2 separate regions of the Homo sapiens genome follow, and region 2 is linked to region 1. Evidence: fine-mapped QTL for protein levels in blood plasma. Region 1 holds a variant in brackets. A gene starts in the other region. All regions are shown on their reverse strands.

Region 1 (15,254 bases):
TACAACCACAGGAAAACTCCTGATCTCTCACTCAAATTCTTTTTTTTTTTTTTTTTTTTTGAGACGGAGTCTCGCTCTGTCGCCCAGGCTGGAGTGCAGTGGCGCGATCTCGGCTCACTGCAAGCTCCGCCTCCCGAGTTCACGCCATTCTCCTGCCTCAGCCTCCCGCGTAGCTGGGACTACAGGCGCCCGCCACCACGCCCGGCTAATTTTTTGTGTTTTTTAGTAGAGACGGGGTTTCACTGTGTTAGCCAGGATGGTCTCGATCTCCTGACCTCGTGATCCGTCCGCCTCAGCCTCCCAAAGTGCTGGGATTACAGGCGTGAGCCACCGCGCCCGGCCTGTTTGTTTTTTTTTTAAGCATTACTAGCGGTTCCTCAATATTCCTTCTCCTCCTCGCTGCCTTTGATTATCCGTATATGGACTGAGTCTAAGCATGTAAATTACATGCAACTTCATTTTTCACTTTGTCTCTCAATTACTTGGGAGCCACTTTCTTTCTCTTGCTTTGTTGATACATATTTAGGAAATACACATCTCATTTTGCTTTCATATTAATCCAAGTGAAGTTTGAAGGTAAATTTACCACAAACAAAAAAATTACAAAGGACATTCCAAAGTCAAAAAAATTAATATTTAATTGCACAGCTTTAGGGTTTTTTGTTTTTTTATTTTATTTTATTTTATTTTTTCTTGTTTTGGTAGATTTTTTTTTTTAATACTTTAAGTTTTAGGGTACCTGTGAACAATGTGCAGGTTAGTTACATATGTATACATGTGCAATGCTGGTGTGTTGCACCCATTAACTTGTCATTTAGCATTAGGTATATCTCCTAATGCTATCCCTCCCCCCTCCCCCGACCCCACAACAGTCCCCAGAGTGTGATGTTCCTCTTCCTGTGTCCATGTGTTCTCATTGTTCAATTCCCACCTATGAGTGAGAACATGCAGTGTTTGGTTTTTTGTCCTTGCGATAGTTTACTGAGAATGATGATTTCCAATTTCATCCATGTCCCTACAAAGGATATAAACTCATCATTTTTTATGGCTGCATAATATTCCATGGTGTATATGTGCCACATTTTCTCAGGATACAAAATCAATGTACAAAAATCACAAGCATTCTTATACACCAATAACAGACAAACAGCCAAATCATGAGTGAACTCCCATTCACAATTGCTTCAAAGAGAATAAAATACCTAGGAATCCAGCTTACAAGGGATGTGAAGGACCTCTTCAAGGAGAACTACAAACCACTGCTCAATGAAATAAAAGAGGATACAAAGAAATGGAAGAACATTCCATACTCATGGGTAGGAAGAATCAATATCGTGAAAATGGCCATACTGCCCAAGGTAATTTATAGATTCAATGCCATCCCCATCAAGCTACCAATGACTTTCTTCACAGAATTGGAAAAAACTACTTTAAAGTTCATATGGAACCAGAAAAGAGCCCACAACGCCAAGTCAATCCTAAGCCAAAAGAACAAAGCTGGAGGCATCACACTACCTGACTTCAAACTATACTACAAGGCTACGGTAACCAAAAGAGCATGGTACTGGTACCAAAACAGAGATATAGATCAATGGAACAGAACAGAGCCCTCAGAAATAACGCTGCATATCTACAACTATCTGATCTTTGACAAACCTGAGAAAAACAAGCAATGGGGAAAAGATTCCCTATTTAATAAATGGTGCTGGGAAAACTGGCTAGCCATATGTAGAAAGCTGAAACTGGATCCCTTCCTGACACCTTATACAAAAATTAATTCAAGATGGATTAAAGACTTACATGTTAGACCTAAAACCATAAAAACCCAAAAGAAAACCTAGGCATTACGATTCAGGACATAGGCATGGGCAAGGACTTCATGTCTAAAACACCAAAAGCAATGGCAACAAAAGCCAAAATTGACAAATAAGATCTAATTAAACTAAAGAGCTTCTGCACAGCAAAAGAAACTACCATCAGAGTGAACAGGCAACCTACAAAATGGGAGAAAATTTTCGCAACCTACTCATCTGACAAAGGGCTAATATCCAGAATCTACAATGAACTCAAACAAATTTACAGGAAAAAAACAAACAACCCCATCAAAAAGTGGGCGAAGGACATGAGCAGACACTTCTCAAAAGAAGACATTTATGCAGCCAAAAAACACATGAAAAAATGCTCACCATCACTGGCCATCAGAGAAATGCAAATCAAAACCACAATGAGATACCATCTCACACCAGTTAGAATGTTTTTTGTTTTTTTAACAGAGTCTCGCTCTGTTGCCCAGGAGTAGTGCAGTGGCGCGATCTCGGCTCACTGCAACCTCTGCCTCCTGGGTTCAAGTGGTTCTCCTGCCTCAGCCTCCTGAGTAGCTGGGATTGCAGGTGTGCGCCACCATGCCTGGCTAATTTTTGTAATTTTAGTACAGAAGGGTTTTCACCATATTGGTCAGGCTGGTCTTGAACTCCTGACTGCAGGTGATCCACCCACCTCGGCCTCCCAAAGTGCTGGTATTACAGGCATGAGCCACTGCGCCCGGCCAGCTTTAGGTTTGCTATGTAAGTATAGATGATTTCCGTGTGCCCTTGAAAGCATTGTATATATGTGTATGTGGACATATGTAAAACCTCTAGCCACGAAGCCCTATAGTACAGTCATGCACCAGGACCAGACTGGTATTTACTTAATCCATGGTTCTTTTAAGCTGATCCCGTACATAGTAATAATAATAATAGCAGCAGCAGCAGAAGCAATAGTGCTTATAACTTACCAAGAACTTGCTACCTCTTAGGCACCATGTTAAATGGTCTAACTTTTTAATATAAAAAATTATGTAATAGATACTATTATACCCCCTTAATGATAAGGACAATCAAGCCTCAGAGAGTTGAAGTAACCTTGTCCAGCATCCCTGGATGAATAATTAGTCACTGACAGGATCTGAGCTGTGGTTGTCTAATCCCAAAGTCCAAGCAGCTGCTGTTTAGTTATTTGAAGTAAGGACAGCACAGACAGGAAGAGCAGGAGGAATACTACAAGGATTCACTCAAGTATGAATTCAAAAGAGTGTGTCATTACTGCACCCCACTGGAACCAAGACAGAGGCCCCAGGAGCAGAGGCCAGGAGGCCCTCAGAGGGTCCCTAATGCATATGTGAGAGACACAGCCTAGAGGACCAATCCAGGGAAAGCGCAGTGAGGAAAGGATCAAATGAAATGATTCATCCATTTGCCCAGCGCATAGAGTTACATGCACACGATTGGGCCCCACTGTCAGTGTCAGCGTTTACACTGTAGAGCCACCCATGTACAGGCCATAGAGAGATTCATTGCAATTTTCTCTCATGTGGACTTCAAAGCCTTGTTCACCAGTGTACACTGGAAAACTTAACTACCTGGTTGCTACAATAACTGTGCCTTTACAAATTAGACTCAAAACAATGTTTTGTGAATTAAATCCCATTTAAAACAAACTGGGATAGCTGGGCCTTTAATAATATTAAGTGTAATGATACACAATAATAATAAACCATGGTTAATTATTTTGTAAAGTGAAGAATTACTGAGAAATAATTCCCAAATTTCTTTTTAAAACCTAAGTATTATCCTAAGATGTCAGATCACCTCTTGTTCACCTCCCATAGATTTCAGTATCTGCCTCACACATAGTAAATTTAATATACATGCAAAGGAGGTGGGAACCCTATGATAATAATTCATATTTTGATGTCTTTTTTCAATCTCTCTCACATATGTTCTCATATCAGATGTGAATTAAGTAGTTCAAACTCATACAGTTAGAGTGTTTTGCAGTTTAAAAATTGCTCCCTATCACCACTCCCTTTTAACAGAGAAGGAAGAATGAGGCTCAGAGAGAGGTAATTTAGCGAAGGTCACCCATCTGGAAAATGATCGAGTCAGGATTTTAATTCATGTCTTTTTAAAACCAGCATATCATGAAGACAGGATTTTAGTCCATGTCTTTTAAATCTGGCATATCATGGGACTTTTAAAGCTCAAACACTGGATGATTTTTGAGCTATTTTGAGGGGAATGGTAATTGACATTTAAAGATATCATGTCTCTTAGCAACCACAGGAGTTTCATGGAGTTCATTTGATCTTCAACGAGATTCACACCCTGAACCAGGCTAACCTATATGAAACTGTTGCCCTGCCTAGGTTCCCAGGGGCCATGCAGGACACAGCATATTTTGCTGTTTCTGGGTTGGGGGAGGGGGAGAGAGAGAGAAAGAGAGAGAGGGGGATGGGGTGACTGTGACTAAGGGGCATGTCATCAACCAGAAATGGATTTAAAAAAATTCTTGCCCTTTCCCTGATACTGAGTTGGCCAGGGTACAGTCGACTTGCTAAAAGGGCAAGAACAAACTCCAGTTTACAACTCCAAAGGGAGGGATAGCACAGATTTCATACTTTTCCTCTTCAGTATTCTCATACCCTGGTGCTGTGCTGTTCTAAAGAATCTGTTCTTTTCTGTGCAACTATAAAAAAGCACCACTTGCTCTTTTGGTAACAAATTTGGACATGGAAGCACAGTTTTTTTTCCCCTCCCTCCCAATGTATCTATTTCATATTTGTTTGTATATTTATTCATTTATCTTTAAATAAACACAGCATAAAAAGGCAATTTTTCTGCGAAAAGAAACTACAATTGCAATCTCACCATCCTAACTCATCAACCATTTTCATTTTGGGAGTTTTTAGCAGGTGTGAGTGTGCACACATGATGCTCCTCCAGATGCAACGTGGTGGTCTGCTTCTGTGCTTCACTCAGTATTAGGATGCAAACAATCCCCATGCTTTGAGCACACTTGCTAATACCTTTTCGCTGATCCTTAAAATGTAAATCTGATGTAGGACAGTTTTAACATATGTTAATATAGGAGTTAAAATCACAAAGATAAGAACTTCAGAGAAAATAAAAGTCAAACTGGGTGAGATTGTTCACTTCCCTAGGACAGCTGTCCCATCTCGCTGCACATGAACAGGTTACAGAACTGGCTCAGGGTTATTCACTCACAGAGGGTTCTACATACAATAATAGCACACTCATCAATCAATGCACAAGCCCTACTTTGTATCAGGAATAGTGGTAGGCACTGGCAATACTAACATAGGGAAGATACATTTTTCTATTCTTAGGAAATTCAGAATATAAAGGCAAAAACAGACGTTGAAACTGATAAATTTTAATGCAATAGACACTGCAGACATATAGAGGGGGGTATAGGTCTTTAAAGAAGGGATCAGTGACCCCAGAGAATCCAGGAAGTCTCCCTAGAGAAGGGGGCATTTGGTGGCATTCATTTGAACACAAGCACATTTGCTCTTCTAGGGCTATTTCCCTAAATAACGCTTCTCTGCATTTTCTCTCTGTTCTGTTCTCTCTCAGTTTGTCTCCTCTCCACTCTCCATGGCTCCCCATTCTCTCTTGGGGAAAGATAGCTTTACTTTGCAGACTGGTAGAAAATAGTAGTCTAAACATTATTATGGCATGCCTGAAATGCTGTCTTTCCCTGGCTTCCACTGGCTCTGGAGGCCCATTAAAGTTTTATTTTATTTTTTTAAAAAGGCTTCTCCCTCCAATTCCTGTCTGCTGTGAGCTGTGTGTAAAGCAAACAAAGTCACAGATAATGTCAACACAATGCACAAGGAAGCCAACGGTAATAGCGTACACTGTAAATTGAATGTAAAATGACCACAGATTAGTATATAATTGGTTGTGTTTCTAAAGCTGTGATTGTTCTTTTTCTTTGAGGCCCTGTACCTCCAGAGATCAGGGGAGAAGAACTGTTAATATTTAATAAGCTTTCCTCTGACCTGGGGCTCTGGAGGAAGGTGACCGTAGATCCAGATGTACAATCTCCAGCAGGGACACAGCCATCCTGAAAGCCCCCGGGTATTCCCTCATTCTCCCTCAGAGCAGTGGGAAGAGCACTGGAAAGGCAGCGAAACCCAGGGCGCCGAGTTCAGGAATGTTTGTACTGGTCCCTTGCTTTCATCCCTGTCACTATCGGACTCATTTCCAGTGCCCAGGTATCCATTCACACCATGTAAACTGCTGTTTCAAGTTCTCTCATTCAGGTACCCCCATTTTTACCGTCAATGGCTTTTTCCCCGTAAAGAAGCTAAGTTTGGCTTGACATCTCTACAGGGCTCCTCTTCATAGGCAACCAGGAGCTGAGAAGACCTCATTCATGCTGAGATAGTCCTGTCTTCAAGAGAAAGTGAGTCTAATATGTGGCTTTGCAAATACGGCTACCTGCACTCTGCATCTTCCCACCCCACGCTTGCTCAAACATCCTTCAGCATGCTCCTGAGTTGTTGGAACCTTGAGTATTAAATTCTCAAATGGAATGGGACTGCTGCTGTCTTGCTATCTTGCCTGGCTCCCCGCCTCCAAATAACTTCCAGGTGCCAGCCCACTGCCTTGGGGCCTGCTCTGAGATAGTTCTCCATCAGAGCTTTGGGTAGAAAAAGACAGAAGAGATGTGGCTCCTCTTGTGCCCTGAGAGTTGCTCTCGGCTCATGCTGGGACCCTTTTCTGTGGCTGGCTGCTTCCATGCTCCACATGGGCAAATGGGGGCAATATGCCTCCATGGTTTTACAGTGTTATAAATTATTTTTTATTTATTTTATTTTATTTTTATGTTTCTTTTTAGAGAGCCTTGTCTTACTGTGTTGACCAGCCTGGAGTGCAGTGGTGTGATCATGGCTCACTGCAGCCTCGAACTCCTGGGTTCAAGTGATTTTTCCTGCCTTAACTTCTCTAGTACTTGGGACTACAGGCATGTGTCACCAACCTGGCTAATATTTGTATTTATTTTGTAGAGACAAAGTTTTGCTATGTTGACCAGGCTGGTCTCAAACTCCTGACCTCAAGTGATTTTCCTGCTTGGCCACCCAAAGTGCTGGGATTATAGGCGTGAGCCACTATGCCTGGCCAGTTATGAATTCTTTATGTGCATTTTGAGGACTCATTTGAATCCAGGCTCATGTACCACCTAAGACAGATTGCTAAAATACCTTCCATTCCATAAGTAAATTTTGCATACTTATTGAATTATTTGAAAATATATATGTGTGTGTGTGTATATATATATAACATTGACTATATATATAGTCATTATAACATTATATATATATATAACATTGACTAATGAATCCTATTGTTACCCAGATGTAACTGGGTGCATAGATAAAATGGAAGCTCAGCAAATGTTAAATGGAAAGGAGAGAGGGGGGAAGGGAGAAATAATACTATAAGATAGGCACAAATATTGTGATATGAAAGACAAGGTCACTGACGACTGGAAAATTTAGTTAGCTCTCAAAGTAGCATAGACTGTAAAAGCAGACCACTTTCTAGTTACATAGTATTGGTCAAGTTGCTTAACTGCTCTCAGCCTGTTTCCTCATTGGTAAATCCATGTGGCTTTATGAATTAAATAAGAAAATGCATCCAGGAAAACTTTGCATAGTACATATCACATAGTTGGAGCTTAATCAATATTGTCGATCAGTATTATGACAGGAGCTTGCACAGTGAGCATACAGTGGAACCAGTGGTTGGAACAACATCTAACTCTAAAATCTGCCCCTGTTCCACTGCTGTGGGGCTTCTATGAGGCCACATTTGCTGCCATCTCTGTTCTTTCTCTCAGAGTCCAGTTCTAGGAAGCTGATCCATCACTGCCTGCTGAATCGCTCCTGATAGGGATCTAGCTATGAACAACACGTGTTTCCAGCTCTCTAGTTGCTTAGGTCTTGTCTCCCCATAAGCTCAGGAGGCAGCTGAGGAAGCCCATGGGCCTTGCCACCAGGATTGTACAAGAGGGGCCCAGCGAGGACCATAGGGACTCTTCCATGCCAGATTATAGCCCTGTGGAACCTCTGCCTGGAAAATGAGATCAGGTGGGGAGATAAGGGGCTGTGTACAAAATAGTGATTGGAGAAGAAAAATAGGAAACCAACAAAACAGCTCTTTACTTAAGCCGCATGACCATGCACATCACTCGAGTATTCACCTGCAGTAGCCGTGGAAGACGTCCAGGGATTTCCGAGAATCCAGAGAAAGCTGGCTAAAATGATCCAGGGCACAGGTGGGGCTTGCAGAAAAACTAGACAATGAGAATCTTTCAACCCCGAAAGATGGTGGTTTATATGGCCAAAAATCTAAAAACAAATAAATAAATAGCAAAAATAACTAGGTAATACAACCACAAATATTCTTCATCACCAAATGCCAGATTATTTAGAGAAAACCATTTGAACCTATAGCACATAGCTAAGGAAAAGATAAGGAAATGCCAAATTATGAAATGGGTAAGAAAGAAACAAGGAATCTATTGCTTTTAAAATAGCATTATTAAAAACTATTCTTTATTACCTATACCCTGCCTATCCCCCCCCCCCAAAAAAAGGATTTGAGGCTGCAGTTCAAAATGAAAACGACTTTGGGATAAACAAAAGGAGGCCCTTGCCTACAGGAGCATCCTGAAGTGGGAAGGTCATTTTTCTCCTCAGAGGTTGACTTCCATGTCTCTGCGTAGGCAGGTCCCCACACCCCTGATACCATGATGCTGAAATATAGCCTGGTAGGTACTTCCTCCAGTCTCATTTACAGACCAAAAAATTGAGGCCTAGGGAGGGGGGAGCATCTAAACAGCACAGAGTTA[T/G]CTAGTGGATAGTCAGTGTCTGACTGGGAAAATGGAAACCATGCTGAGTGTTTAAAACAGAGGGGATTTAATGCAGGGAACTGGATGCACAGCTCATGGGGATGCAGAAAAGCCAACAGGGGCCAGGGAAGCAACCCAACATTAACAACAGCAGAAAGCCACAGGACTCCTGGCTGGAAGGGAAAAGGAGAAGCAGGATGGTGGGAGTTTAGGGGCCGCTCTCTGGATTCTGGAAGCCCACTGGTATCTCCTGTGGGAGCTGGTCCCACAGAAGTTATGGACTGATGCCTGGCCTGCTGCCTGAGGCAGGGAGGAAGGAGGAGAAATACCCTGGCTGTTCCTTTACTTCCATCCTCCCATCACCTCCCAGTTCCTCCCATTGGTCAAATCTAGCAGGAAGCCTGGAGACACAGTTGGAGTGGATGATGCAGGACAGAGCAGGGGAAGAGCCTGCTCTTCACCAGATAGTCATTCCTTGGGCACCCCCATAGGCAATGCTAGCTGTCCAGGGTTCTTCCTGGTTCAACATCCTACCTTTTGGGGCAATCATCAGAACTACTTTCTGACGTGCAACCTATAGGGGCTGTGTCGTATTTCGTCAATGAATGCATTCCTGGTAAGTTTCCCAATGAGGAAAATAGTTCACACACAATGTAACTCTGAATGGCAAGTGTTACCTTAATGCATTTGTTTGTATTTCCAGATACTGGGGTATTTTTTTCTTCACGAGGGAGTCTTCTGGGAAATATAGGCATCTTAAATTTTCCTATTTAAAGTGGAAGCATTGCCAAGAAGTGGTTTGTGGAGGTAATGATTTTAGCTCCCTAAAATAGCCATCAGTTCCCCTAAGCTATAACAAATAGACAATCTAAGTGACCCCATGAACTGGCTGTACGTATGCAGTCTCCCGTCTCTACCTTGAAAATTAATTACAGCCCCAAGACCTCTAGAGGAACTCTAGAGCTGCCCCTTACCAAGAGGCAGGAGTAAGGTTCAGAATACTTAGCAACCCCCTTAGCACAGGCACTGACCAATCAGAAAGCTGGAGTGGTATCAAAGCATTGTCCTGGAGACCCCCTGTGCGTCACAGGTTAACCCTTTAGGTGTGGCATTTTTGGGGTAGTAATGTGGCGTGGTCAGAGCATGGCAATTTACCAACCTACTTAGAAGCATTTTGTTAGCTTGATAACCATTATGGCTATACTGGTGCATACTGGCTGAATATCAACATTACCGTGAGGTTCCTGGAACAGGGTGCTGACGGACAGAATGGGGAACCTTTTCATGTGTCCCAGAAAAAGGGTCTTAACTGCTAGTACTGGGTTGCCTGTATACCTCTATTTTATCCCCGAGGTTATTGACCTCTGTTTTTGCCCCAGGGCAGTGACATCTCTAAAGTACTCAGGAACTCTTGAGTAATAATAATATATTACATAATACTAATATGCATTGAACACATATCATGCATCAGGTATGAATATGTTATTTGATTTATCTCATTTAATTCTCACAAGTCACATAAGTCTCACAAGTACATAACTTGTACGCAGGTCTCAGTCCCCAGCACAGTGCCAGGCACGTGGATACATGGCACGAGGATGAAGAAACTGACTACAGATGCTAGTGGAATAAATGAAAGATTGAGAAGCTCTTCCCCACTCATGGCCAAGTTTTGGGGGACTTTTTGTTATTTGTTTTTTTTTTTCTTTTTCCAAGATCTTCCTAAAAAAGCAGAACCTTTGCCCAGACAGGGCAAGCATGTCACGAAGTTCTGCTTTCACTGTGTGTTAAGTGGAAATGATTAGGCAAGCAAGTAGTAAGAGATTCCTCTCTGTGTCTTCTTCCTGTGTGGGGCAGTCCTGCTGTGGACCTCTGCACACTCAGGCTGACAGTGCAAACTATGATGATTTTCACTGATAACCCTAGGATATACCTCATTCATTTGTCATCATGGCTTTTCACACAGAATGTTGCTGAAGGGGCTACTTCCTGGATGCATACACAGGTGTGAAGATGCTAGTGCATGTGCATGTTTGTGTGTGTCCAGGACTGACTTGAATGACTTGGTGTTTGATCACAGTAATGGCACTTGATCCAAGCGCCCATGGCTGATGAAGTTCTGCCCTTGGGCTGTGAGATCTGAATGAGGTACAGAAAACTTCTGCCCCTACAACAATGACAACTGTTTTCACCATGACTACCATTTGCTGAGCACTTACTCTGTGTTAAGATAAGCATTGTACATCCCAATATGTAACCAGTGGTCCTGTGAGATCTCATTCTCCCTATTTTACAGGTGGGCAGACTTTCTCAGCTCTCAATGGGGCATGGTAGGGCAACCTAACTGCCTGCCTCTGGGCATGTCCCAGCTGAACTGGCTGGAACATGGGATGAAGTGGAGCATTTTGGTTGGTTAAGCTTTAGTCTGGGAGTTGGTAATGTGTCAGAGATTCTCAAACCAGGCTACAGGTTAGAATCCCCTGAGAAGCTTTCTAAAAATACGAATGATGGGACTTCTCCCCAGATCAATTAAATCAGAATTGTTAAGGATGCAGCCACAGCATTGTTTTTGTTTTGTTCTTAACTCTCCAGCTGATTTTAATGAGTAACTATGGTTGAGAACCACTGCCTTGGGCTCTAGTTTTGACCTCATCTATTAGGCAGGTCATTTGTCTTGAGTTGCCTTAACTGTAAAAGAGATTCTGTAGTGGAAGCAGCCCATCTCCCAGAAATGGGAGCAAGGGCTTAGGAGCTAAAATCAGAGAATTCAGATGTCAGAGCCCCAACTCCATCAGTTACTAGCCATGTGACTGTGAACAAGCTACTTAACTTTTCTTAGTATCAGGCAACAACTAAACTTATGTGACTTGTGAGAATTAAATGAGATAAATCAAATAACATATTCATACCTGATGCATGATATGTGTTCAATGCATATTAGTATTATGTAATATATTATCATTATTCAAGAGTTCCTGAGTACTTTAGAAGAACTGGCTACCCAAGACTGTGGTTGTCTTGTAATGATTTGGCGTTGTTACAGTGAACCGTGGTTTTCAAGTTCTCAGAAATGGGAAATGGGGCCTAAATTAAGGGGAGGGAGGAAAAAAAATAGACCTAGGCACCCAAAACTATGAGATGTTTTCCAGTAGGAGAGAAAGGGTGGTCTGATTGATATCTTCAGGCAGAAGAAGGGAGCCCCCTTCAGAAACCAGCCTAAGGAGTGGCCAGGTTTCCTTAGCAGTTAAGTGAGCTTAGGTGGGTTTTGAAAATGTCCCTTACACACACAACTCACTGGGGTTAGATGAACTTCAACTGAAGGCCACCAACGGGAATGGACAGTGCACCTTGGGCTTTGCAGAGGCTGCAAGTCCAGGAAACTCCAGGAGCTCCGGAATGAAGATTAATGCACTTCCTGAATTCACCCTGAGTTGATGCTCTGGACTCCCCATGCGTGCAAAGCATCTCCACCAGCTGCCAGCACATGACTAAGACTCTGCAAGGCAAAAGCTCACCCTTTGCCCTGACAATGCAATAGTCTAGCCTAATAAAAGAGGCAGCTGGACCCTGCCTACTTGGAAAATAAATGCATTTAAATAACTCCCAGAAGGAAGAAAAAAAAAGCTTTTACAAGTTTGAACACAGGAAGGATACACTCAGAGGTCTCATCTGTTGTCTGTCTGTGGGTGACACCCCATTTTTTCAGCATGGAATTTTACTTAGCCACACTGGGAAAGCTGAGTGGCTTCCCTGGGGTTTTGCTCTCCTTACTGCAGGATTATATCATGCAGAAGAGTCTGGAGCATGGGTTCTGAAAAGGCTCCATGTGGCCCCCAGGCACCGCCAGCTTGGAGTCTAGATCCGGAGACTCACAGTCTGGGAAACGTACACAACAGCATCTCAGACAATGATGCCCCAGGCTCACAGGAACGAATGAAAGCAGTGCTGCTCATGTATGTGTGTATTGGGGGGGATGAGAATAATTGAACTTCTAGTTCAGATTGCCTATTAATTTAAGATTTGCTTCTCTTTGAATCAAACTTAAGTTTATAACTTGAACTAGTCCATTCATTTACCACGTGGTGTTCTGTCCCAGGGCACACAGAAATGCCCCCAGGGCACACTGGTGGATCTTCGGGTATTGTTTGAAGCAGGTTCCGAAGGCCGTCCTTGTTACTGGGACTAGAATGGTTAAGAAAACTCTCGTGCGACTTTGCTGCAAAAACAGACATTTCAGGGCTTCAAGCAGGAAGAGTTATGGTGCTATAAGATGAGGATCTCAGTTCCAAATGGACCCCAATCAGGAAGTGACTCCATCTGCCAAAAGGAGAAGCTCTAGCTTTCCAATCATTGCAGGGTGCAGGCAGTACAGTTAGCAAGAAGCCATGGGGCGTTCATCTTAGACAGAGAAGTCATTTCTGGGTTAAATAATAGACTAGCAGCCAGTGTGTTTTGGAACATATTTGAAAAATCATTTAAGCCTCAAATCCTACTGATAAGCACATGGCACCTAAGAGCAAACACATTAGCAGAGACTGAGTCTAATGACTTCAAATAGGAAGGAGGATCCTAAAACAAGGACAACATCCGTGCGAGTCCAACAGCACCGGGAATAGCACTGTGGGATACAGGAAAGAGTCTGCAAGGACAGCCACGCTGGGCCGTGGCAACGTCTGTTCATAACACTGCCTGGTGGTCACTGGCAGGCCACAGAGGAGCACCTATGAGTTTGTATCAGAACCCACAAGCTGTCAGCTGTCACTGCCCTCCTCTCTAAGCTCTTCTCTGCTCTCCACCAATTCAAACTCTGTCTGCACTAAAGTATTAAGAAATACTATGTGTGTTGCAGGGCGGGGCGGGGGTGGGGGTGGGGGGGCTGGTTATTGATAGTCCTGCAGGGAAGCTGGGTGAGGAAGTTCTTATCATACAATACTTGAAACCGGGTAAAGTGTGTTGAACACACTTCTTCTCCTCCCAAGCCCTTTTCTGAGGGCCTTCAGTGAGGCCTTCTTTTCCTGTGATTCTTCCCCAAACAGACCTCAGCCCAATTCTCACCTTCTCCTTTCTTCCTCTCTCCTGGATGTTTTCTTCCTGTGACACCCAAATCCTCCTTCTCTTATCTGAAGAGTGGTTTCCTACTACCTTCTGGAACTGGGGCACCTGCTGGCACCCAGCCCAGGAGGCTCCCTTCCACCCCAGTGGCAGGCTTATCAAAGTGCATCTCAGTCCCAGCAGCTCTCTTGCTAAGAGGGGCTTCCTCATGCCCTGCAAAGATTAATTCACTCAGCACATACTTGGGGCCTACTTTGTGCCAGGATCCTCTTCTGGTGAACAAAACAGATAACAATCACAGCTTTTGGAGCTTCCATTCTCATGGAGGAAATCAAGGTTTATCTAATACATACACATTGCCAAATGATGTGTGTGTGTGTGTGTGTGTGTGTGTGTGTGAATCAGCAGACAAATCTAGATAATTCTCACTCCAACATGTGGGTTCTGTCATTGTCAATCAATCCTTCTGGCATTTTCGACATCTAATTGCTCTTCTCCTGTAAGGAGATGGGTGGATAGAGAGCAGCTCAGCTGGGGGTAATTCCTACAAGGGTTTTACAAAGCATGCTACCTCAGGGCCTCTCACAGATGCGGTCTTTAGAACAGTATGGCCTAGATGGGCATGGCAGAGCAGGGCTGAGTGGCCAAGGGGGAAGAGGATATTATGGGGGAGCCAGGAAATCAGAACGAGCAAAGCAAGGAGTGGTGGAACTGCATATGAGAAGTAGTACAAGAAAATACTGGAGGCTAGCCGGGCGTGGTGGCTCATGCCTGTAATCCCAGCACTTTGGGAGGCCGCAGTGGGCAGATCACTTGAGGTCAGGAGTTCGAGATCACCCTGGCCAACATGGCAAAATCATGCCTCTACTAAAAATACAAAAATTAGCCGGGCATGGTGGTGCAGGCCTGTAATCCCAGCTACTAGGGAGGCTGAGGCAGGAGAATCACTTGAACCCAGGAGGCGGAGGTTGCAGTGAGCCGAGATCACCCCACTGGCCTCTAGCTTGGGTGACAAAGTGAAGGAAGGAAGGAAGGAAGGAAGGAAGGAAGGAAGGAAGGAAGGAAGGAAGGCGAAGGAAGGAAATACTGGAGGCAGAAAGGAGGTGGCTTTGTAGGTGCCTGAGGTTGAGCCAGATTCCTTTAAGGAAATGATTCTAGATACACACTCCACACCTGAAATATCCTTTCCCTTCTTCCTCTCCACTTAGCCCTTCAAATCCTCCTCTTTGCACAAGCCCCACAAAGACAGGGATCTTGTCAGTCTTGCTCAGAACAATTCTTTGCAAATAGTAGGTATTAATTATTGGTGGAGCAAATGATGGGTTCAGATGAACTGCCGTTACCTCCTCTGAAGCTTCCCAGCCCACCTCAGCTTCATGATTCTCTCTCTTCTGAATTGAAGCTTCTGAAGGTCTCCTGGCAAGAAGCTATTGCAGTGCAGAAAGCACATAGGATCAAATCCTGGCTCCACCTCTTACTGAATGTTTCCAAATGTCCAA
Region 2 (15,254 bases), not on the chromosome of region 1:
CAAGCACCTGTTACCTAGAAAGTGTGCAATGAATCAGCATATTAAAATTTTTTATTTACTTGTGGTAAACACTTAACATGAGATTTACCCTGTTAAATTTTGAAGTATACAATGCAATATAGCTGACTGTAGGGACAGTGTGGTCCAGCAGATCTCTAGAGCTTATTCATCTTGCTTGACTGAAATTTTATGCCCATTGATTATCATAAAGTAATTTTTAAGAATGAAAGTAATGCATTGTTAATGGGCAGAATATAGTCGTTTGAGGTTAGAAAGTCAGAATCGCTGGGAGCTGCCCACTCTGATTTCTCTGAGTTCCTTCTTTTTTTATTTTGGTCTTTCCTGTGGGGACTCTTTCCTCGAATGTCTAGTCACCAGGCTTTTGGTTCCATATGAGTCAACAGAAGCCCACTGGAAGCTCTAGAGGCTTGGTGGGCTTCTTATCCAAGGTCCCCACCTTCGGGTGATGGAGAAGAACCTGGCTGTTCTGCTGGGGGCCCTCAAATGTCATTTGAGTTTGGTAGTCTGAGTTTTGGTAACTTTTCTCTTAGGCTGGCCAGCTTTTCCTTGAGAGGAATTTTTCAGTCCTCTTACTGGGGCTCTGGGAGCCTAGCGGGGGGAAAGCCTGGAAGTTCTGAGCATCCCATGTACAGACTTTCATTTAATTCCTCAGTCCTTCTTCTCAGTCTTCAGTCTAACACCCTCCCCACCCACTACAGCCCCCACACCATCCTCTGCTGGGCCAGGTATTACTGAGTCTTCAGTCCCTCTGGACCATCCCCATATTTAATGGGGATGAAGAAGATCCAGGGGTCCAACAGGTCACCCACACTTACTGTTGTCAGCTTTAGCCCACTTGGCAACTTTCTGCTGACTCCTGCACATTTTCAGGGTCCTTTGGCCTGAGTTCTCTTTTTTCCTGTGGGCTTCCCCACCTGCAGCCTGATCACCAGACATTTGAGGAAAGAGGCCCCACATGAAAGACCAAGGTTTCAGCTTTTTCAGGTCTGTGAAGCCTGTTTCACCTGTTCATTCTGTTGTCACAAACAGTTTCACCTGTTCATTCTGTTTTCACCTTCCAAACATTTGTTGGCATCTCTTATCTATTTTAATTTCCTCTTCTGTTTGCTTTGTCCTAGTAGATTTATACCATTTTATTCCTTTAACTGTGATTTCAAGGGATTTCAGGAGAGAGTGGAGATAAATACCTATGCTCAATCTGCCACACGAAATGGGTACACCTTGCTTTTTTCCTTTAACAATATATTGAGGACATTTTTGTTTCATTTTAATGACGTATGGAATTTCAGGCTCCAGTTGGTGACACTTAAGGCAGTTTTAGGTTTATGCTATTTTAAGAAATGCTGCAATGGGACATTATTATTGTACAACAATAATTATGTGTAGAAATAAAGAAAGGAGAGAAAAAAGAGAGGGACAGAGAGAAAGGGGGTGAGACAGAGAGAAGGAGGTGGGGAGGAGGGAAGGAGTCCATGCAGAATGTCAGGTATCTGAAGACAGCAGGTCAGGGAGAGGTGTAGGGGTCTGAATGGGTTGTACTTCCAGTCCTGGCCCATATCATGACCTAGGCCTGACTCTCCCCTTCTAGTTCTACTGCCCACTACATGCCAACTGCTTCAGGCTCAAACCTGTTAATGGTGAAAGAAACAACTACCACTGGGATATGGTCCACTGGAAACAGGAAACAGGCTGATGTTTAGACATGCAAGGCCAGAATCCACGTGGCCAGAGAGGATTCAAGGTGCTTTCTGTCCCCAGAGAGTGCCCTGACTCCAGGATATGAGTTTCACCATGACTGAAGCCCACACCAGCCTGCAGCCACTAGCTCCACCTCTGCCTGGGAGCCAGGCCTGTCCAAAGATAACCAAATGGAAAGGGAAGAACCTGGAAACCTCCACTTTAGCTCTGGAAGGCTTGCAAATTCCCTGGCTTCTCTTTCTTCCACTGCAATATGGGGAGCATAGCTTCTGCTAATACATTAAGAGGTCTTAAGGGGTGGTATGCACTTCTCACATCAACCAGCTTCTTACTAAGCACTTGACGTTGAGTTACAAGGGATGTTGAAGGAATAGTATTCAATAATCAACTCATTCAACAGATGTCTATTGAGGTCAGTTCTTTATACAGGCACCTGGTTTTTGGTGCACAGCAATGAACAAAGAGACACGGTCACTGCTCTTGGGGCTTCCAGTCTAGAGAGAGTTACAGACATTAAATACGTAAGCTCACAAAATAAATATGTAATTGCAAATTAGGATAAGGTCTGGGGAGGAAAAATAAACACCTTTTCAGGAGAGAGTAGCAGAACTGCCCTGCCATGGAGAAATACGCAGATATAGGGAAGCCTCTTCAGGAGGTGACAGCAGAGACCAGCCCTGGAGGATGAGAATGAGAAGGAGAACACATCCCAGGCAAAGGGTGCTGTGCCAAGACCCTGAGATTGGAAAAGGCTTGACACACTCACGTTCATGAAATAGAACTGGGGTGCTCAGGGTGGCGTGACCAGCACAAGGCTGAGAGGTAGGCGGGTGGCCTAATGGAAAAACACACAAACTGACTGTATTCTACTATTCTCACACTCACTCTCCATACTTCATTTCTGAGACCAGAGGTGTGGGGATTTCTCTCCACACCCAAACAACTCTCCAGCAGACACCAACAGGGTATCCTATAATTTAATTCCATTCTGACACTATCCATCTGGAGTGAGTCAGATCTACAGGCTGAGGGCTCAGTCCCACAAGGCTGCCCCCACTTCAGAGGCCAATCACAAGTCCCAGGTGGTGAGCTGTGCTTCAATCAAGCAGCTAAAAACTGGGGTTCCCATGACGCCCTTCCTCTGCTCTTCCTCTGCTAGAGCAGCTCACAGAACTCACAAAAACACTTACTTACATTGACCCATTGATTTAAAGGATATTACAAAGGATACAGAGGAGCAGCCAGATGGAAGAGATGCATAGTGCGAGGAAGATGGGAAGGGGCTTGGAGCTGCTCTCCTCTCTCCATGTGTTCAGTAGCCTTGAAGCTCTTTAAACCCCATGGATCATGGATTTTGTTTGTTTGTTTGTTTGTTTGTTTGTCTGTAGAAAGGGGGTCTCACTAGGTTGAGACCTAGTTGTTCAGGAGGTCAAGGTTGTTCAGGCTGGTCTCAAACTCCTGAACTCAAGAAATCCTCCTGCCTCTGCACCCCAAAGTGCTGGGATTTCAGGCATAAGCCACTGCACCCAGCCTAGTTAATGGACTTTTATGCAGGCTTCCCCACATAAGCATGATTACGTGGTCTTCAGCCCCACTCCCCTTCCCAGAGGATGGGGGGTGGAGCTGAAGGTTCCAAACTTCTCATCATGGCTTGGTCTTTCTGGTGACCAACCCCCCTCCAGATGCCCACAAAGAGGCACCTCTTTGGAACAAAAGATGCTCCTAGTACCCAGGAAGTTCCAAGGGCTTAGGAGTTCTGTGTCAAAACTAGGGTCAAAGGCTAAACATTAGAACAAGAGATGCACCTAGAACCCCTATTTCTCAAGAAATTTTAAGGGTTTTAGGAGCTCCGTGCCAGAAATTGGGGACAAAGACCAAATATACATTTCTTATATCACAATATCATAGTGGGCCAGATCATGCAGAGAGGTCACATTAATTAATTAATTAATTCAATAGATATGGATTAAGCACCTACTATGTGCTGGGAAATATTCTGGGTACTAGACAAAGAGGACTAAACAAGAAAAGTCCCTCCTCTCATGAAGCTTACATTCTAGTGGTAGGAAACAGACACTACACACAAATGAATGAATGAATGAATGAATTCAGCCATGAAAGTACTTAGGAGAAAATAAATCATCAGGAGAGAACAGAGAGTGACTTGAGGGGAGGGCACTACTTTCTATGAGTGGTCAGGAAAAGCATGAATGAGGAGAAGGAGCCAGCTGTGTGAAGATCACAGAGAAGAACATTGTGGGCAGAGGCAATGGCAGGTGCAAAGGTATCAGGAGAACCCGCCCCTGAATATTCAACGTGGGCCCTTTTCTATTTTTCCTAAGTGTCAGTCGGTCTGAGAAATAAAGGGAAAGAGTACAAAAGAGAGAAATTTTAAAGCTGGGTGTCCGGGGGAGACATCACATGTCAGCAGGTTCCATGATGCCCCCCAAGCTGCAAAACCAGCAAGTTTTTATTAGTGATTTTCGAAAGGGGAGGGAGTGTATGAATAGGGTGTGGGTCACAAAGATCACATGCTTCACAAGGTAATAAAATATTACAAGGCAAATGGAGGCAGGGCGAGATCACAGGACCGGGGCGAAATTAAAATTGCTAATGAAGTTTCGGGCATGCATTGTCATTGATGACATCTTATCAGGAGACAGGGTTTGAGAGCAGACAAGCGGTCTGACCAAAATTTATTAAGCAGGAATTTCCTCATCCTAATAAGCCTGGGAGTGCTACGGGAGACTGGTGCTTATTTCATCCCTTATCTACAACAGTAAAAGACAGATGTCCCCAGAGCGGCCATTTTAGAGACCTCCCCCTAGGAATGCATTCTCTTTCTCAGGGATGTTCCTTGCTGAGAAAAAGAATTCAGCGATATTTCTCCTATTTGCTTTTGAAAGAAGAGAAATATAGCTCTGTCCCACCTGGCTGTCAGGCAGCCAGACCTAATGGTTATCTCCCTTGTTCCCTGAACATCGCTGTTATCCTGTTCTTTTTTCAAGGTGCCCAGATTTCATATTGTTTAAACAATTTATGCAGTTAACGCAATCCTCACGGAGTCCTGAGGCAACATACATCCTCAGTTTACAAAGATGGCGGGATTAAGAGATTAAAGTAAAGACAGGCATAGGAAATCACAAGAATATTGATTGGGGAAGTGATAAATGTCCATGAAATCTTCACAATTTATGTTCAGAGATTGCAGTAAAGACAGGCGTAAGAAATTATAAAAGTATTAATTTGAGGAACTAATAAATGTCCATGAAATTTTCACAATTTATGTTCTTCTGCCATGGCTTCAGCCGGTCCCTCCGTTCAGGGTCCCTGACTTCCCGCAACATCTCTCCCTTTCTTTTTATATAAATGTGCCATGGCGATGAAGGCTTGTTCATTCTCTCGATTTTGATGCAGGATTCTTTGACTTGTCTGACACACTAAAGACAAGCTGGTTAAACAGAGAAACATAATTCCAAAATTTACTAGAGTGGGGCCTCCAATAGACTTAATCAAAGTCGTGGGGTTTAGTCCATAAAGATTTTCTGCCACCTGATCTAACGCCTCAGCTCCAGGCACAATGGATAAGTGAGCCTGAGAGGCTTCAAAAATTTGTTTTTTTAATTTAGTTATGTCCAGTGATAAATTATCTTCCCTGCCAAGAAGGTGTCCTTTGAAAGAACATTGTCCTAATGAAAGAATAGAGTTAGAGTGTTCTAGAGGTAGAGTTAAGGAGTTGATATTTTATTTTAAGTGGGAACCATTGCAAGGTCTTAGCAGGAAAGCAACAGGATCTGATTTAAGTTTCTCAAAGTGTACTCTGGCTGCTGTGTGGAGAATGGATTGCAGAGGCAAGAGAATTAGGAAGGAAGGCAGGTAGGAGGCTCTTCTGGGGACAGGGTGGGAGTTGACGGTGGTTAGGAGGTGGAGGAGATGGAGCAGGAGGCAGGATGTCTAATAGGTCCTGATCATTGAGGGTGAGGAAAGGGAAGGATCAAGGACACTTCCTGGGTGACTTGGAGACCCGGATAGGTGGTGATGTCTTTTACTGCTAAGGGGAAGAACACGGTGGGACGTGGGAAGGAACAGTTAACAAACATTAATTGAAGACCCCCTGTATGCTTGGTGCTGAGGGACACATAGAGAGGTGTGGAGAGAGGCCCCACTCTGCCTGGCTATGGACAGTCCAGCTACAGAGATGAGATGCTCACATGAAGCAAGAGAAAAAGGTGTGATACCAACCATCAAGATGCAGTCCCATGAGATCTGGCTGGCGTCCTCCCACCTACAAAGCCCTCTCACACATTATCTATTCGATCCACATCATTACCAAATAAGATAGGTAGTATTATCCCCATTTTACAGATGAGAAAACCAAGGCTTGGAGAGGCTGTGACTAGCCCCAGCTCAGCCAGCCAGGTTGGATGCAAATCAGCAGAAGCTTTAGAATTTCTATACAGGCATCTGCTCTGCAGTAGGGTGGGACGGGGACTTGCTTTGAAGCCTCATTTTATATCAAGCACACTGGTTTTACTTGGTTTGGGCTTTGGCAGTGGCTGAGAAAGGGGTGGGAGAAGCCAATGGGGCTGGAAAGGAGAGTATAAAATCTATGAAAGTAATTTATTGGTGATATCCATTGAGATACACCCAGTTCTGTCTGTCTCCAAGCCAGGGTTCTTTCCTATTCTGGATGGAAGGAGTTGTTCCAAGATAGCAGAAGGTAGTATGGAGTACATTGACTGTGGAAGAGGCAAGGCTTAACTCAGAGTGATCTCTGTAGGACTTGAGGGCCAGGGAGGGCAGCCCCAGGAGGGACACAATTTAGGAGCAAAGGTGTGGTGGGCTGTTAATTGAAGTTTGCTGAAGGCATCAGAGACCTCTCAGTTCTACACATGGGCAATCTGTACTGGTGGCTGGGACCTGCCTACTTAGGTGGGAACTCTGGGTCAGTCCCTGGGGAAGGCTCCTCCCCAGCTTTGGTGGACATGGGCCTGCCTTCTGCTCCCAGGTCTCAGCCTCCAGGCAGGGACTTATTCCTTGAAATCTTGCAATTCAGGTCTGGCCATCAGGTGAGCCCAGGATGTGCCCTACTAGACTGAGGCATACTGTAAAATAAATCCAGGCTGGCAAGGCATTGTATCTCTCTCCTCTCCCTCCAGCCATGTCCAGTGCCCTTTTACACAGAGCCCCTCAGCAGAGATCACCCCCACCTGCCTACCTCAACCAGTGGTTCTCAACCGACAGGACACAGAGTTTTTAATGATGTCCCACTGTCCCTGCATGTATCGTGGGCAGTTTCCTCACTGAGAGGCTCCATCAGTGAACATCTGGTGTGTTTGTTATAACTTCCTTCCCTTTCTCTCTTTGTCCAGCAACCTACTTATTCTCAAAGCTCTGTTCAAGCATCACTCCACTGGCTTTCCCACCCCACCCTGGCTGGTGTTTCTCCTTGAGCTCCTTTGCTCCCTGTGCCCACCTTCATTTACCACGTGTCATTTCTGCTGTATATGGTGTGAGGGGCCTAACTTTGATTCTTTCCAGATTGGTAGACAATTAAGTCATTGGCATTTATAAAACATCTTTTTCTTATTCATTTGAACTGCTACCTTCATTGCACACACCCTCTCCATATATGCTCAGACCTACCTCTGTTTGTCTGTCCTGGTGGCAATTCCATGCTATTTTAATCCCAATGGAATTATAATAAGTTTTGTATAGTGTGTCACCATCATTACTGGTTTTGTATTTTAGTTGACAAAAATTGACATTTGTTATGATATTGTTTTCCCGTGCAAGAACATGTTCAGATCCTATTGCAAATTTATATCCTGTGGGTAAGTTTTATAGATTCTACTATTAAACTTATTATTGTTATTAAATTTATTTATAAATATTTTATAGATTTTGACACTTCTGTGAATCAGACATTTCCTTCACTTCTATTTCTAATTGGTTATTGCTAATGTAGAGAAAAGCTATTCATTTTTGTACATTCACCTTAAATCCAGCCATATTACCAAACTCTGTTATTATTTTTGATCTGTTTTTCTAGAAAACCTAAAGACAATAGGGGATGGGGCAGTGTTTGGAGAAACTCAGATTCTGGGCACTGCAGTGCATGTCCTCCTGGGGACATGAGGCATAGCGAGAAATTCATGAAACTGACAGGTCAGTTGTGTATATGGAGGCGGGGGCGAGATAAGGTGGCCCCTAACTCTCCAGAGAAGCCTCTCCTCCCCGAGGCTCAGGACCTCCCAGTCCTCACTCCTGCATCCCACTCTCACTCCCCCACCACCAAGGAGCTGAGGCACCTCTGCACATCTCAGGTGACCCTGAACAGGCTCTTTTGCAGGATCCCCAAGAGAAAGGGCTGACCACAGCAGAAACAGAAGCCATGACTGCAGCAGGGAAAGGGAGGACTTAGGGCTGGTCCATCTGAGTGCTGAGGTCCAACACTCTCAGGGGCCTCGAAGAGGTTACTAGAGCCCTCTGACACCCCTAGACCAGCAGAAGTGGCAGCACTTGGCAGAACCAGGAATAATAGCAGCCACCATGGAGTGCGTTCCCAACAGTCCTCTGAGGATTCCCCTTTACAGATGAAGAAACTGGAGTTCAGGGAAATTAAGGAACTCACTTCAGTTTACACAGATAGTAAATGGCAGAGGAGGAATTCAAACTCAGGAACCTAACTCCACAGCCTGCCGCACCCAATATTCCCACGTGGCCATCTAGGCCATTCATGTTAAGCCCACCGGCCAAAGACTGGATCCCCTAGAAACTGCAGAGCTTTCTCAGGGACCCTGGAGTTCATGCATACACCAGACATTGTCTGCAGACATTACAGTAATATGTGCCCACTTGGGTCCTGTGGTGAATTGAATGGTGACCCCCTCCCACCCCCCGCAAAGGATAACTTCACCTGGAATCTCAGAAGGTGACTGTATTTGTAATAGGGGTCTTTGCAAATGTAATGAAGGTAAAGATCTCAAGATGAGATCATCTTGGATTAGAATGTCCTTCTCAGAGACAGAAAGGAGGGGACATACAGAGACACAGCGAGGAAGGGCGTGTAAAAATGGAGGCAGGCAGAGGCTGGAACGATGCCGTTGCATGCCCAGGAATGCCACAGGCCATCCGAAGCTGGAAGCTGCTGGGAAGTATTCGCCCCTGGAGCCTTCGGAGGAAGCATGGCCCTGCCAACTCCTTGTTTCCAGGCTTCTGACCTCCAGAACTGTGAAAGAATAAACTTCTGTTGTTTCAAATCACCTGTTTGGTGGCCATTTGTTACAGAAGCTCTGGGAAACCGACACAAATGTCCACCATTCTTCTGTTTTTTTTTTTTTGTTTTTTTTTTTTTGATGGAGTTTCACTCTTGTTGCCCAGGCTGGAGTGCAGTGGCGCGATCTCGGCTCACCACAACCTCCGCCTCCTGGGTTCAAGCAATTCTCCTGCCTCAGCCTCCCGAGTAACTGGGATTACAGGCATGTGCCACCATGCCAGGCTAATTTTGTATTTTTAGTAAAGATGGGGTTTCTCCATGTTGGTTAGGCTGGTCTCGAACTCCTGATCTCAGGTGATCTACCTGCCTCGGCCTCTCAAAGTGCTGGAATTACATGTGTAAGCCACCATGCCTGGCCCAAATGTCCACCATTATTATTCTTCATAAGAAACATAGGCATTTCAAGCCATTACCAAACTTATAGTCACTATTTATCATTATCTATTTTTCTCCATCAATGGATATGCAACTATTACTATCATGAAAAGTAAATTATATTTGCAACCCCATTATCTTCTAGATGGAGAAACAGTTTGAGAGAGGGCAGTGGAGAAGCAAGAGAGCTGGTCTGGAACCCAGCTGCCTGACTCGTGAGTCATTTCTCTTCCTCCAAAGCCCTATTAAGTCTGGGGCTGCTTATGGTCCTCACCAACTACACAAAGAAAGTCAGGGTCATGCTCATCCATCAGGAGGTTCAGGGCCACTTCCCGCTTTCCTCTGTTTGGCAACACTAAGAGTCACCCTCTGATTGTTCCAGAAAAGCAAGAATTGCTAAAGGCCATTGTGTCAAGTTTGCCCAATTCATGCTGCTTGACATCTTACCCCTCCCCACCCTGCTCCCATCCCCCCCACCCAGTGCCCCTGATTGCAACACTCCTGGCTGGGGTGGGACAGGGTGGCCAGATAAAAGCAGAGCAGGACCTGGAAAGCTGGTTTGTATGGGCTGCAGCCTGCCGCTGAGCTGCATCATGGTGCGGTCTGTGGCCTGGGCAGGTGAGCCGTCGGATAGTGGGCTGGGTCTCGGGAGCTGTGGGGAGGTGGGGATGTGGATGTTCAGGGACCACTTGCTACCATTTGCAAGGAAGCAGGAGGACTCAGGAGAACTTCAGAGGGTCATTTTATCCCTCTCCATGCCTCCTGGCTTGCAGTCCCTTGATTACCTTTCCTGTGGGCTCCCCCTTAGGCTCTTTCAGCCCAAGAGACTTCATGTTGCAAGGGAAGGCTTTTCTCAACAGGCTGAAGATGACTTGACTTTCCTCTCTCTGTCCTGAAAGCCCAGAGTCAATGAGGCCCCTGCACTGGGTCTTTGTGTCTTTCCCATGTTCTTAGGTCCCTCCTGTTGGCCTTATCCAAGAAGCGCCCACTGCCAAGAACCTCTTCTCCAACCTCATATTGTCTGTCCTGCAAGAGGGCAGCCTGGGGCCAAGATCCTGGGCATCCTTGCAAATTTTCATGGAGGTTCTATTAGGTTGACAGAGAAGTCCAAGGTCACCAGGTGAAAGAGATCTCTTCGAAGGAGTCCTGTCAGACCCTAGGTCTCCAAGGCTGTGGTTGCCTACCACAGCCAGGTAGCGGAAAGGCAACAGGAAGCCATAAACGATGGGAGCAGAGGCACAGGCCCTCCCCAGGAGATGAACTCTCTCCATGCAGCCCTTCCAGATTGATTCTTTCTAGCCCCAAAACAGGCTTGTTTCTTGTTCCGAAAGAGAAACTATCTCTCTAAATAACTCACAAGTCAGCAGTTTTTCCACAATCTTCCTGAATCCACACTGCCCTTTACTGAGGTATAGAGAGGGGGCAGCCTCAGCCCATGGAACTTTCCATCAGCTTCTAGGACCAACCCAGGCCAGGAAGAGACCCCCGTGGTCTGGTCTGCATGAAGGGATGGGCACAGTGCCCTCCTGGGTCCCTTCTGAAAGGAGAAAGCTTGATTTGTATGAAATCAGCCCTCCCTGACCACCTCCTGTGCTTCCGTAAGCTGTGGGGCCTGGGAAGGTGAGAATGGCAGCATAACCCTGGCCTTCTCTCTTGTGTTGCTCCAGGTTTCATGGTCCTGCTGATGATCCCATGGGGTAAGTAGCCTCTTTCTTGGCTGCCTCAGCCCCTTCCCTGGGCTCTGCTTAATGTCCCAAAACACCTTCCCTGCCAGACCTCCCCAAGAGCTCCAGATTTCAGTGGGGACTCTCTTCCAAAGCTCAGACCCCTGCAAATGTCCCCATCTGCTACCAGCCCTCCCAGGAAGGCTCTTGCCTCCTTATCCATTAGCTGAGCTCCTGCACATCTGTGGGGCCAGCTTGCGCATCAGCCTCTTTCAGGGCTTTCCTTTCCTGGGGTTGCTGGCTCCCTCCTCTGCACTCTGTGCTCTTGCAGCACCTGTGTGTTTTACAGTACAGTACTGCCTCTCATTATTGGCTTAGGTGTCTCTCTGCACCAGTCTCAGACTCCAAGTTGCTGCAGGTAAGGAACCTAAGTCTCATCTGGTTCAGCATCCCCAGCCCCTTAGCTCTGCGAGGACAACACACTTGCTTCTGGTCTGTTGAACTGATCAGATGTGGAGCTTGAGAGAGGCAGGAGGGAGCTCCTTGTTGTGTCAAATGGAAAAGAGACCTGGGGGACCTTCAGCAACTTGAACTCCTGGTCCCCGTCTTGTCCCACCCCATTCCCTGGGCATCAGTGGCCTGGGAATGCTGGCCTCTCAGAACTTGTCCTGCGACTGTGCCTCTCACGCTGGGCTGTAGCATTGGAGGTACATTTCCCTCTCAGCCTCATAGGATGGAACAGCCGGGGGCACAGAAACAGCAAACATGGGGAAGATGAGAGGTGGAAGATTTCTCAAAAAGCTTTAGTCCAGGCTACTTCTGGGCTTTCTGCAGTATAGTAATAATAGTAGGACTTTGTGTGGACTAAGGGTTAATATATGTGAAGCACCTAGAACAGAACTTCTTCCTTGCAGTGTTCCTCCGAGTGTTTTACATATATTAACTTTAGCCCACACTGGGGTCCTGTGACACACATTGTGGAAGGTCCAATGGTCTCCCCGTTTCACACAGGAGGAAGCTGAGTCGCACAGCGAGTAAGTTGCAAAGTTGGGATTTCAACCCAGACACTGACATGCCAGAGTCCCTGCTGTTAACCACTGCACTTTATTTTCTCCATAGTACAGAAATTCATAACAATATTTGATATGCGACAGCATGACATGATAGAAAAAGAGCTTCCTGGCTCCTTCCTACATGGCCTGGGGGATGAGTTATCTGGTTTCATCCCCTCCTTCCTTTCTTTTCCTTTGGGGAGTTCACCAATTCTCCTGTATCATTGCAGGCTACACCCCAGCCCCACTAGCAAGCTGCACTCCTGGGTGACCTCTGGTTAGAGACAGTGACCACTCCGGGGCCACGTGTATGCCCAAGGTCAGCCCTCCATGCTCTCGGGTTCTAGTTGAGGCCTGCCTGAGCGGTCTCTTCCCAAAACTCTCCTATAGACACTTTGCACCCCTCCTCTTCCTCGTCCCATCCCTGTCCATGTGGGCATTGGAGGGGGTACAGACAGACCCTGCTGGGGCAAAGGGAAGTCCCAGGTTCTAGACACCAGCCACAGGCACGCTCCAGTCCAAACTCACTGCTCCATCAAGATCTTGGCATAAAATGTTGGCTCATACAAACCACACCATCATAGATTGAGAGACTGGAAGAGACCCCACAGACCACACAGTCATTATCAGATGGGGCCGGGATTGAAGATGAGATAGACCCAAAGTCTATTTTTGGCAGATGCTGGAATGAAGACTAGCATTCTTGCTTCCTGGTGTCCTGGTCAACCCTGCACAGGGCTGACCTCAGTGGGGGTCATCACCACCGAGCCCTCACTGGGAATAGACCATCCCACCCCTGCAAAGTCTTTTCACACACTGTAGGGTACTCTAGAGACAAGTACCCTACAGTGTGTGGGGTACTTAGAGACAAGATGCCTTCTCCTAGATAAAATTAGCTCTATTAGAATCTCAGCAGTGATATTGATAAACGTAGATTATCTACAAGGGATAACAAGCAAATGCAAATGGCTTTAATGCAAGACTAAAGAAACATAAACCCAGGCCTGTAACTGGGGCCTCCTCTCTGCTACTTATCTGTTTGCATTTTAACGAAGTATTCTGAGGTATTCCAAACCGTTTTTGAAAGTTCTGCCTGCCTTCCTTCTGCAGATGAGCATGCCATGTCTAATTCCCTCTAGGCCTCATGTTGGGGCTGCCTGGGGCTACCTTCTGTCAGGTTTCAGGGCCTGGAGGGGAGACCCTAACTGGGGATAGGGAGACCTGCCTGCCAGACCCTGATCCTGGGAGCTCGGACTCTGAGACTAGCAACTTTCAAGGATGTCAAGGAGTCATGAGACTTGGGTCGCAGCACCTCTGCTCTGCCCTCTTAGCAGCCATGCTGATGGGGACGGGCCCCAAGCTCGTGAGCCTCAACTTGCTTCCCGGGAAAAGAAGGCTTAGAAGATGATGGTCCTGCCCACTCAGTGTTCTGAGGATCCCATGTCTGGCCTCTGAAAATGCTTTCCCAACTGCCAGACTCCATCCACACAAAAGCAAATGCCATTTCTGCCTGTCGGGTCCCTCCACTGACTCCAGGTGTAGAAGAGGGAGGTCCAAGGACATTGCCTACCCCAGATGGAGGGTGACCAGTCCCCAGAAGGTCCTGCTGACAGCTATCCCTTTTCTTTACTCCAACGGGCCAGGCTCTGCTGCAAAACTGGTCTGCTACTTCACCAACTGGGCCCAGTACAGACAGGGGGAGGCTCGCTTCCTGCCCAAGGACTTGGACCCCAGCCTTTGCACCCACCTCATCTACGCCTTCGCTGGCATGACCAACCACCAGCTGAGCACCACTGAGTGGAATGACGAGACTCTCTACCAGGAGTTCAATGGCCTGAAGAAGATGTGAGCCAAAGCAGAGGAGCAGGGTGGGTGGGATGTGGTGGGGTGACAGATAACCTCCTCCCAGAGCCAGACACCTCTCCAGCACTAAGGTCCTGCCACAGACCCACTGTGTGGCTTTGGGCAAGTTGTATCACCTCTCTGGGCTCTCCTGTGCTTAATGAAAGAGGTAGGGTTTGCTTAGGGGATCCCAAAGGTCCCTTCCAGTTTAGGTCTAAGTGTGATCAGGATTGTGAGACTCTTTCTGTCTCCCATGAAGCCCCTTCCTCATTATGAAATTGATCCACCCTTCAGCTCCAGTGTTCTGGGCGCCTTCACAAAGCCTCTTGAGAATCTGCCCCAATCCTTGCTTCCTGAGCCCACACAGTTAGACAGGTGGTTCTGTGAGTCAGGAACGTGACTTCCCTTTTCCAATCTACAGCTGTCCCCAGAATGCCTAATACAGTCTCTGCACATAGGCACTTTCACACGTCCCCACCCCTGTTGTTCCTCCCCACTGTAACATCCCTGCCAGGGTGCCCTGGGAGCTGGCAGAGTAAATCCTGCTGTGTCTCCTGTCTTTCCCAGGAATCCCAAGCTGAAGACCCTGTTAGCCATCGGAGGCTGGAATTTCGGCACTCAGAAGTTAGTTGACTGTGGTCACCTGTGTGGTAAAGCTCCTGGATGGGAACCTGGTGCACTGGCCAGAGGGAGCCCTGGTCAGGGAATCAGGCCAGGCTGAGGTGTGGTCAGGGGAAAGGGGAGGGGAGCTGAACTCTGAGGGCTGAATTTCCTTCTGGGTTCTTGGCACCTCAGCTGGAGGGCAGCACAGTGAGCTTTGCTCCAGGCTGTTTCAGATCCAGTCTTGCCAGAAGCATAGGTCTAAACACAGCAGAGGGCTCAGACCTCTCCAAGCCTCAGTCTCGTCTTCCATGAAATGAGAAGAGGGAGGGTCCCAACTAATCCTGACAACATGCAGTGTCTATGTTTTCTGAGCTCAGAAATGGGGTACCTTGTCCCAGAAAGAGTGTTTATTCCACTTCTGAGTACAAAAGGTAATCTGTGAGATTGAGCCTGGATGCCAGAGTATTGGCATTTGGGGGACATTTTTTAAATGATTTATGGAGAAAATGGAATGGAGTATTTGAAACTTGGTGTTTTCTAGAAAATCCAGAATATAGGGCTCCCAAAGCTCTAAACAGTCTTTCTAAAACTTTTTTGGATCATGAACCCTTTTGGGAATCTGATGAAAGTGATTACTCATCTTCCAAAATAATGCTTATATACAGACTGTTTATTGAAATGCAGCAGGAGTTTTTAGCCTGGTGTCCTCGGACTAAATTA

Direction of the effects. Alleles are on the strand shown, and positions count from the first base shown. The strength of an association depends on the size of the effect and on how common the allele is.
For the plasma level of the protein whose gene starts at base 9,930 in region 2, G is the low allele of the variant in region 1 and T is the other (weak association).

The links. A credible set is the group of variants that fine-mapping cannot tell apart. PIP is the chance, under the fine-mapping model, that this variant and not a neighbour inherited with it causes the effect. Protein levels are from antibody-based Olink assays in UK Biobank. Linkage for the fine-mapping came from a reference panel and not from the study's own genotypes, which makes the PIPs less certain.
Region 2: it holds the start of CHIT1, and the variant in region 1 is the best candidate, but not a certain one, in a credible set for the plasma level of the CHIT1 protein (UK Biobank, PIP 0.73).

The regions. Positions count from the first base shown.
Region 1 is chr10:62,616,049-62,631,302 of GRCh38, reverse strand. LOC105378327 (a long non-coding RNA gene) reads left to right here. Exons shown (of 3, transcript XR_946002.3): 2 at 6,180-6,252; 3 at 6,688-7,099. Among named protein-coding and RNA genes, the nearest start is that of ADO, 180 kb to the left of the region's middle. The variant T/G (reference allele first, on the strand shown) is at 8,704.
Region 2 is chr1:203,224,349-203,239,602 of GRCh38, reverse strand. CHIT1 (chitinase 1) reads left to right here and starts at 9,930. Exons shown (of 11, transcript NM_003465.3): 1 at 9,930-9,991; 2 at 11,041-11,070; 3 at 13,733-13,934; 4 at 14,499-14,555. The coding sequence starts at 9,967.